2 separate regions of the Homo sapiens genome follow, and region 2 is linked to region 1. Evidence: fine-mapped expression QTL. A gene starts in region 1. The other region holds a variant in brackets. All regions are shown on one strand. Distances are from middle to middle.

Region 1 (5,387 bases):
TTGGGATTTCAGGTGTCCCATGATCTTGATGTGCTGCTAGGCTGGAGCACACACTGGCCATTACTGAACACAGCCATATTAGGGAAAGCAAAAAAACCCAAAAAATCCTCTATTGTATATTTATTCAACAACTGTTTATGTTTCCAGGACAACTGCAAAGAAAACAAGCTGAGGTGGTTATACTGTTGCTGTTAAAAGTTGGTATCAGTAAGATTTGTGTTTTGTGATAATCCCTAAATCAACATACCACTTGTAAACTGAACTTCGAGAAAGAAACATGATGTTCATTCTGTAAATATACATGCAGACAGGTCATGTACTAATCCTAGTCCTTTTCCTGAGGTAGATTTTAAACAGTATTTTTAAAGTCCAAGACATAGGTTTTTCTAGTTTATTCCCTGAAGATCTGTTGCCACAGTTGGGAGATTTCTTCTTAATCCTGATTTTCTTGGTAAGCTTTTTTACTTTATTATCTCTATAATTTATTATCTCTATCCATATTTGTGGATCGGGTAGTGGGAAAAGAGATTATAATACTTGTCTTTCTCTCCTCTCCCTCCATCCCTCAAAAGATCTTTATGCATTTCCCACTACTCCCTTACTGTCTTTTAGCATTCAGAGAAAAAGCCAACTTGCTTAAAGAGGAATCACTTAAAAGGTAGGCATATCTAAGATGCTCATAGAAGAGGAAGAATGGGACATGGCCCCATGCTTATTTTTGTTTACAACGTAACATGGCATGAGAGAGGGCAGAGAAACTAAGTTGCTGGGGAAAGTTAGAGGAACTGAAAGTTTGGGAATAGGCTGACCACATATTATGCCAGTGACCAGTATGACAGGAGATGGGGCCCTGCTGCCAGTCATCTCCACTGAATAAAGAATAATGCTCCTCTTTCAGGGTAATAAAGTGGGGAAAAGGAACGTCTTCTCAATGCAAGAACATAAGCTTTCTCGTATATACCTGTATGCTACAGTTTTTCACATGGAATTCCGTTTTCTGAGGTACAGCACATTTTAGGTAACAGTATTTAACTTGAAATTCATCATGGGAGTCTGCTGCTATACCAGGCACAAGATAAAACTCCAAAATTTCTGTTTACATTGACCTTTACATTTAAAGCTGTTCATCCATGGTGCCTCCCCAAATCATAAGACCAAAGACCACCAAACGCAGGGTGGACTCTGCTCATTATTCTTTGACCCAGAAAGACTGGAGAAGGTATGTGCTTTAAGTGCTGCTCTACCTGAAAAGAAATCCTTTAAATTACCTATGGAAGTGATGTCCTCAGATAATCTTAATGACTATTTTGGCATTTATAAATAGAAATGATTATGGACTTTGATCTGCCATACGGAGGTTCGGAACCTGGAGAACGGCTGTGATAAGTAGGTTTTGATTGAGTGAAAGCATGAGCTTGTTCAGAGTGAGGGGCATAGTGAAAAAGGAACAGCCATGCCTCAAAATCAAATCATTTGCATTCCCACAGCATCCTGAATACCGACTACCTCTTCACTTGCTAAAGCAGCTAAACTGTGAAGCTCTAAGTGGTTTGGGTTTGTTGTTTAACCTTAGCGAGATCCTTTAACTGCAGCAATATTCAAGCCAGATATTTGGAAGCAAATGATATTTCCTCTTGCAGTGTCCACAAATCTGAATATTAGGGGCATGAAATTAGGCTTACCATCTGATTTGTAATTACAATTTTGGAATTCTCTGTTTTAGTTGCTGAGGCCTGAGTTTTCTGGCTCTTAAAGCATAGATCATTTCACCTGATGTTTTTGAAGCATCCTAAGTACAGTAGAGTAGAAAACTGATTTCTTTGTTAATTGTACACTGAATAATGCCTTTTAAAAATCAAAATAAAATTAACAAATAATGGTGAATGAAGTGAGATGAAAACTTGCTTAATTTTTGCCTTGATGAGGAGGGAGACAGATTTATCACTTAGCTTCTCAAGAGTTCCTTCTTCCTGCACAATTTTTAGAGCTTAAAACTGGTATAGCACTACTAATAAGGTCTAGCCCTATTTGCTGTCAGCAAAGTGGGACAAATCCAGGAAATGTTGATCACCTTTCACACCCACATGTATGATGAAACCACACCATTTGCCAATTGTATGGAAGACAACCAGATTCCATGACAATTTCCTGTTAGCACTGTGCTTGTAATCATAGCCAGTAGAAAAGCCCCTAGAGGAAAAGCGGCATGATATTCTGTTACTAACTACATGGAAGGATTGGAAAATGGAAACTGAAATAAGAGGGAGTGACAGACCCCCAAGTAGAAACCATGGAGTCACTCTGCCACAGCACTTCACTTAGGAAGGATTTGGTAATTACGAAATAGTGATTGATTGATTTCCCTTTTGGAATTAGCAAGCCAGAGCTATCACTAAGGGGAAATATCATAGAAAATATCTGATTGGTTCATAGAGTTGGCAAATAATCAGGAAGTGATGGAGCTTTTTAAAATTATTCCCTGGTTATTTAAAGAAGTTGAAAATCCTTTCACAAATCTTTATCCAGGAGAAGAAAATAAATTCTACCTGGACTTAATGCAGGGTTGTTTGAAAAGAAATTAAAAATTCATGATAAAGATAAGAAACATGTTAGCTTTAGAACAGAAAAAAAAAAAAGTGGGAACAGGTGGAGCTGAATTAAAGGTTAGGAAGTCAGGGAAAACCAATATGGAGAAAAAGACAAAGGTGCGATCTGTCCCAGAAGATAATGATGTGTTTGTGGTAAGTGGGGGATGTGGGGGAGGGTTGTTGAAAACCACCTGAGACTATTTAGAGTCCGACTTGAGGTTAAGGAGGGGGAGTTCATCGATCTCTTACCGCCCGGATCTGCAGCTCCACCACCACCTCCAGAGGCATCGTTCCCTGCGTGGGCGAAAGGACTGGAATGAGAAGATCCTTTTGTGCCGAGCCTTGGACCAATTTTTCTTAGTTTAGCTGAATACCTAGAGCAAATGTTCCCAGAAGCTTCCCCAGTCCCACGCCCTTGTTCCCCTACCGTCCCCCCCAGCCCAGGTCCCTCCCACCGGGACGGGTCTCTCACACTCGAAGCTGGAGTGCAGGCTTCCAGAAGGCGGAAGCGTGGCGTTGCCAGGGACACTCAAACGCGCAGTCTTCATCGTGGAACGCGCGCGAGGCCCCAGCGCAGACGCGCGCCCTCACGGTCGCTGTTGCCCACGCAGTGCCCCCAGCCGGAGAGACTGGCCCTGTCTGGCGTGCTAGACGGATAGAGAAATGCTAACAATCCCGATCTTCTTTCCATCAGCTCCTGCTATCCCCAATTACCATGTCAGAATGTTTACCGTTTTCATTCTGAAAGTAGAATGAGATCATAGGTCTGTTATAATTTAAATAGTACACGTTTAGTAGCTGCACGACCCCAAGCCTTGTAGTTTCTGTAACAATTCTCATTTAATATAGTTGCCTGTTCCTAAAAATACTCTTTTGCTTATTAAATGTTATGTTTGCTTCGGAAAACATGGCCACCGTCAATAACAAACGTGTGCTAATTAGAAATATAAGGTTAATTCTTAAACATATTTAAAAGTTAGGTATCCCCTGTTAGCAGCAATAGAAATATGTCAGTCTTTCCATAACGGTGTCCAGCCTTTTCTGGGGTTTAGTTTAAGGCAAGCATTGAGTAGTCCAATGGGTAGTTATTGCATTTGCCAAAACCACAGTTACTGTAAACACTGTCAGAGGTGGTGCGCAGAGCAAGAGTTCTGAATGAGTAGGGGACATTCACTACATCTAATAGAGAAAAATGAAGGAAAGGAGCAGGTAGTGGCTCCTTCTAGCAATCCAAAAAATCTAGGAAGGCCAATGCTGCCTCTGAAAAAAAAATTTTAAATCCTAAATTATGTTCAGTCATTTATTACTAATATTTTGCATTAGAGAGTTATACAATTGGAAATAGTGCAGAAGGATGGTCAAGACAAGATTGGGTATTCATTTTGGTAACTGGAGTTTATTTCCCTGGAAGGGAAAAACTTGGTATGATGAAGAAGGGCATATTGTATCCTTATCCAGTTCCTAGTGCTGTGTCTCTCTGCATATCAAGAGATACAGGTGGGCACCTAACTATCTATAGTGTCCAGATCATTGATTTGTCACTCACAACTTGCTGACACCCAGAGTGATGTGGGACAGGACCTGTGATGATCCTAACAGGTAGGTCACCAACACCAATGCTAAGAAATCAAGGAGAGTGACAAGCAAAACAAATTAATAAATAGCCAGAGTTGTATTGGGAGAGAAGAATCAGTCTTTACTGAGGATCTGCAAAGTGCTAGGCACATTGCGTATGCTAATTCATCTCAACCCTACAATAACTCTATCAGGGAGATATTATCCCTATTTTACAGATGCAGAATCTGAAGCTAGACAGCCTTTTACTAAAAGCCACAGACCTAATAAGGGAGCAGCCACATTTGAATCCAGGTGTGCCCTACCACATCACTGGGTCTGCAATATAGACATCCTGTTGATCTCTAGAGACACAATGTTCCATTCTATGCTCTTCTTAGTCTTAACTCTTGATCTAACTGGACTCTCCTTGCTTGGCTGCTAGGGCACAGCTCTCTTCTGGTTTCCCTCCAACTTTCTGGCTATTCTTTCTTTGTCTGTTTATCCTCCTCTGGCTAAGCAATGTTTCTAGGTCCTTTCCTTTCCTCACTCTATACCCTTTACTTAGAGTGTCATCCATTGCAGACATTGATTAACACATGTATACAGATTTACATACCCCACCAAGACCTCTCTTCTGCTGACAAGGTGGAATCTCAATATCATATCTTATGTCATACATATAAATATATATATCTCCTCTTTGTAGCGACTGCCATAATAGCAGTTTTACATTTGTTCCTGTGACTCTTGATTACTATTTGTCTCCTTAATCTGTAAACTCTGCATGGCTAAGCGTTTATACCCTAAATAGGATAGAAGATAATAAATATTTTTGAATATTAAATGCAGAGATGGTCAAGCCAATCTGTGGGGGTTAATGTACATGGATAAAGAGAGGTCCCATCACAATGGGTAAAAGAAATCTGCAGAATTAGAAAGGACCAGGCACAGCTACTTCTGCAAATCTGCTATGGTGATATTAAATGAGTTGATGGGGATACTTCACACTCTCCTAATTGTCCCCGCCATGGTTACCTGAGGCTCTCAGCTGCTGTGGAGATGTGGCAGTTGCTATACACACCCAGTCCCTCTCACTCATCTTGCAAAGTTATTTATCATTGAGGCTGTCCACCTCTGCCGGGGGCCAACAAAGCCTTTTAAGGATTGGACTGTCACCACTTCAAGAGAAAGCCTTTATTACCTGGGTAGGTACCTCTTGGTGGCAGCAAACAGATTTCAATG
Region 2 (5,387 bases), 610 kb before region 1:
CTATTCAACAGTGTTTTTCTTTGCCTACTGATCTCTTTGACTTTCCAGACTCCCGAGACATATTTCCTTTCCCCTATTTAAAAAAAAAAACAGTTCCCATCTCTTTGCTCAAATTTCCCATCTATTCCTGCATGTTATCTATTTTTTCCAATAAGTCCTGGAATGTACTTAGCATAATAATTTTAAACCCTGCCTAATAATTCCAAAATTGGGCCATCTCTGTGTCTACTTCTATTGACTATTTCCTCTCTTGGCCAAGAGCGACATTTGCTTGCTCCTTCTTATGTCTTATAACTGACTTTGTGCCAAATATTTTGTGTAAAAGAACCATAGAGTGCGGTAGCTCAAGCCTGTAATCCCAGCACTTTGGGAGGCCAAGGCGGGCGGATCACGAGGTCAGGAGATCGAGACCATCCTGGCTAACACAGTGAAACCCCATCTCTACTAAAAAATACAAAAAAATTAGCCGGGTTTGGTGGCAGGTGCCTGTAATCCCAGCTACTGAGGAGGCTGAGGCAGGAGAATGGAATGAACCCAGGAGGTGGAGCTTGCAGTGAGCCAAGATTGCGCCACTGCACTCCAGCGTGGGCCACAGAGCAAGACTCCATCTCAAAAACAAAAAAAAAAAAAGAAAAAAAGAAAAGGCCTCACACCTTCTGCTGTCAGGCTGCTAGTTGACGAAGGGGACCCTGAGTCATCTAATCTATAGTTGATCTAGGTCTGAGTGTTACTGCAGCTTTAATCAGATTCAAATCACCACTGGCTTAAATATTTTGAGGGTGGGATCAGGCCTTGACCTTTTGGCAAGTCTTGAGATCTGAGCACAGACGAGATTTCAGACATTTTTTCTCTATGCTTTATGCTAAGCTGTCAGTTTTCCAAACTAGGGAATATTTCTCTCAGCTTTAAAGCACAGGAGGCTGCTTTTTAAGTCATTAAAATATTCTCTTTGTTCTCCACTACACTCCTGGTTTTTGGCACCTCTGGAGATCTCTGCACTGCTGCTCTGCTTTCATCCTTCAGACAGTGACTACAGAAAACTGCCAGAGTGCCATGATGGGATTTCTCTCAGCTCTCCTGCCCTGTTCTCAGCCTGTAACAGGCCATTGCCTTGCTTTGTGGAAAAACCACAAATACCTTAGAGAGAAGTACTATTGGCTTTTCTAGCCTATTCTTGGCCTTCTGCCTACCATCCTTCTGCACTTGAACATCCATGGGAATAACCTGGAGACTGGTGCAGGGATTGCTTTGTGGTTGGAGATCCTTATTATTCTAAACAGCCAACATGTGGCCATTCCAAATTAGTTAAGTTGGGCTACTTTCTTCTCACTCTGACAATGATAGATTCCTCCTCTTGCCAGCACTTTGCCAGGGATGAAAGCAGGCCTCAGCTTGTTCTCTCCTGAAAGGGCTTGTCACTTACTCAGCTTTATTTGTGTGTGTGTGTGTGTGTGTGTGTGAGAGAGAGAGAGAGAGAGAGAGAGAGAGAGAGAGAGAAAGAGAGAGACTGGCTCTCCTACTAGCTCAAAAAATAAAAAAATCTATGATTTTGTTTTTTACTCTCATTTTTAAGGCAGGTGTGAAGGTTCCTTGCAACTTTCTACACATGTTGAATCAGAACCTTACCCCTACTTTTAAGGCATGTTGAATTCCGAATGCATCCTTCCTCCTGGAACCCAAGGTTCCTGGCCAACCTGGTCAACTCATGTGAGCCCATTTGGTAGCCCTGGTAGCGCATATCAAGCATTTTACTGAAAGATGTCTCAGGCAAGCTCTGAGTTTGGACATCCTAGCCTACCCTGAAACTCTCAGTGGAATTCCCATATCTCACTTCATACTACTCTCAGTTCTTCAAGACTAACTGCCTATTTAATGGACTAAACCTCCCATTTCTGTCTTTACTTCAACTTTCCATTCAACAAACATTGTCTTTTGAACCTCAAATCTGGTTCCTGATTCTCCTTCTAGCCAGCCTGCTTCTCGTCACCTTCAGTGGTCATCCCTTTCAACTGAACCTAACTTTACTTCTTCCCAGCTCACTAATAGGTGGTGTTATGATTTAATATTTGCCCCCGTGTTGAAACTTAATCCCCAGTGTGGCAGTATCTTAAGAGGTAGAGCCTTAAGAGGTGACTGGGTCATGACAGCTCTGCCCTCATGAATGATGGGTTAATGTATTAATGGGTGATTATGAGAGTATAACTTGTGGCTTTATGAGAAGAGAAGAGAGACCTGAGTTAGTTCGTTCAGACCCGTTGCCAGGTGATACCCTGTGTGCCTCAGAACTCTTGAGGAAGTCCCCACCAACAAGAAGGCCTTCACTGGATGCAACCTCTCAACCTTGAATTCCTCAGCTTCCACAACTGTAAGATAGAAGTTCCTTTTCTTGTTAAATTATCCAGTTTTGGGGATTATTTTAATAAGCAACAGAAAAATGGACTAAGACATGTGACATATTAATTTATTCTTCTCTGTAGTTCATCCAGCCTCTGCCCAGGAATCAAAATTCTCAACTCTGCTCACAGGTACCATTTGAATGTGCCACCACTCCCACTTTGCCCATGGATTTTCTAGACTCAGAGCCTGCCTGCTAGTTCCTACTTTCTGGCCTATCTCTTGCATGCTTCCAATACCCCGTTCTTCTGGTTCAGTTACACTTCTGCATCATCTGCTTCATAATGGCTACTGATCCATTTTTTTTTTTTACTATTACACTTTAAGTTCTAGGGTACATGTGCACAACGTGCAGGTTTGTTACATATGTATACATGTGCCATGTTGGTGTGCTGCACCCATTAACTCGTCATTTACATTAGGTATATCTCCTAATGCTATCCCTCCCCCCTCCCCCCACCCCATGACAGGCCCCGGTGTGTGATGTTCCCTTTCCTGTGTCCAAGTGTTCTAACTGTTCAATTCCCACCTATGAGTGAGAACATGCGGTGTTTG[G/GT]TTTTTTGTCCTTGCCAGAGTTTGCTGAGAATGATGGTTTCCAGCTTCATCCATGTTCCTACAAAACATGAACTCATCCTTTTTTATGGCTGCATAGTATTCCATGGTGTATATGTGCCACATTTTCTTAATCCAGTCTATCATGGATGGACATTTGGATCAACTGTTAACATTACATCACAACATAAGAAGAGAATAAAAAGGAGGACTTTCCATTCTAGACTTGGAACCTCATATAAATAGCCATAAAATGGTTTAATTGGACACTTATAAAGACTGAACTACAAAGGATATATATTAACACAGTTTAGTGTAAAAATGAGATGTTGATACTTTTTTAGAGTCTCGGGTACAAATGAAAGTTCAGCAAAATATCTGAATTATCAAAAGCTTCATGATAGCCAACAACATGACGTCCTGAAATGTTTCTAAAGAAAAAAAGCAGTATGATATTCTTTCTGCAAGCTTGTACTGCACATACTCCCTGAAGAATTATGCAAGAATGCCACAAGTGAGAAATGAGAACTGTCAATGCACATGTTACCGTGCTCCTCCTGGTTTATCAGTGTTCAGGGTGTCCTGAGACAGCTTCCTCTGCCTAGGAGATCTGAGCTTCTTTAAGTCACATGGCAAAAGGGAGCATAAAAAATGGGGAAGGTGGCAGGACTCCTCATCCTCCTTGTCCTCACTTCATTTACCCAAGATTTCAGGCTGTCCCAGCATCTTTCCTGGACACAATTTCATTACCACAATATGAAGACTGAATTACTTCCTTGCCAAATCACACTAAGTACATAGGTTGTGAAAGTTAATGTCTGTAAAGGACTGTGCGTTCTTTGACGCAAAGGAGCTCAACAAATGCACAGTCATATTAAAATGATACATTACCCCTGTGCCTTAGCGACTAATTTAGGAGAGAAAGGCATTTCATAATGAAAATCTTCATGATGTTGTATAAGGTGTTCCTTGAGGACCGACTGTCAGTTTCCCATATTGAAAATACTGGTGGGATTGGGAGAGAGGTGGAAAGAAAAGGAAAGAAGGGGTTCTAAACTCGTTTTGCTTCTGTACCCCAGTTGCTGCTACATATAAGGCTTAGCTTTAATCATACAAAATATCCAAGGCAGAGATAGAATGAATACTGGGTTTAGGATTAAGAGGCTTGAGGGACTAGTGTCAACCATATCACATATTTGCTGTATGATCTAGGTTAAGGCACTTACTTTCTCTGAGCCTCATTTTCATACCTATAAAATGGGATTATAACTCTTCTGCCTACCCCATAATTGCTGTGAAGATGAAATAGCATATGTAAGAATGTGAAGTGGCCAGGCACAGTGGCTCACGCCTGTAATCCCAGCACTTCGGGAGGCCGAGGCGGGCGGATCACAAGGTCAGGAGATTGAGACCATCCTGGCTAACACAGCGAAACCCCATCTCTACTAAAAATACAAAAAAAATTAGCCAGGCACGGTGGCGGGCACCTGTAGTCCCAGCTACTTGGGAGGCTGAGGCAGGAGAATGGCATGAACCCAGGAGGCGGAGCTTGCAGTGAGCTGAGATCATGCCACTACACTTCAGCCTGGGTGACTGAGCGAGACTCCATTTCAAAAAAAAAAAAAGAAAGAATGTGAAGTACACAGGAAGCACAGTATGCAAACGACACAAATTCTTATTGCTGTTATATGGACCAAACACTTGGAATAAACTCTCTTGACTCTTTATCTCACCAGATTAATATACAGATGGCAAACTGAGTTCCATATCTGCAAAAAAAAACAATGCACAAAGAAAAATGTACATCTGAGTCAGCACCACCTTATGTCTGCCTAGGGATTTGATTTGCACATTTCACAATATTCCAGAAGCAAAATGTATGAGATGTGTCCTTTCTTACTTATTACTCATATGTGTTTTTATTCCCCACTTAGTGAAATTTACCTTTTATAAAACATGTAATATGATGGATAACTCAATATGGAAGAGACTTTTTATGGGTATGTAACAAACCATACTGCAAAGGGGATGATATGCTTGGCCTGTCAGTTCAGGAAAGCATAACAAGATTGAAACCACATCCTACCACCAAGAGTGGCTTACCCTAGGAATGAATGATTATTAAACATCTGAAAAATCTATTCATGTAATTTAGCGCATTAACAGAATAAGAAAACCAACCAGGTGATTGTCTCAATAGAGCTTTTAAAGCCCTTGGTAAGAGCCATGCAAGTTCATGATTTAAAAAAAAAAAAATGGTGTTGTATTAAAAGCATATTCACTAAAATCAGAAGTACTGCATATTTGCTATTAACTCACTACTAGAACTCAATAATGTATAAAAGGTCCTAAATAAGACAAACAAGAAAACGAATGAGACAAATATTAGAAAGGATTACCTAGAACATCTTAGAAAATAAATTGAGAAAAATTAAGGCAGA

What was found. PIP is the estimated chance that this variant, and not a neighbour inherited with it, causes the effect. A credible set is the group of variants that fine-mapping cannot tell apart.
Region 2: its variant is the best candidate, but not a certain one, in a credible set for the expression of SPATA6L in aorta (GTEx, PIP 0.88).

What each region holds. Positions count from the first base shown.
Region 1 is chr9:4,663,375-4,668,761 of GRCh38, forward strand. It overlaps SPATA6L (spermatogenesis associated 6 like), which reads right to left and starts at 3,106. Exons shown (of 12, transcript NM_001353486.2): 1 at 2,838-3,106. The coding sequence starts at 2,876. It overlaps PLPP6 (phospholipid phosphatase 6), which reads left to right. Exons shown (of 1, transcript NM_203453.5): 1 at 1-1,884. RefSeq lists silencers at 2,895-2,944, 2,955-3,034.
Region 2 is chr9:4,058,371-4,063,757 of GRCh38, forward strand. All of the region lies in intron 4 of GLIS3 (GLIS family zinc finger 3), which reads right to left. Among named protein-coding and RNA genes, the nearest start is that of GLIS3-AS1, 160 kb to the left of the region's middle. The variant G/GT (reference allele first, on the strand shown) is at 2,950.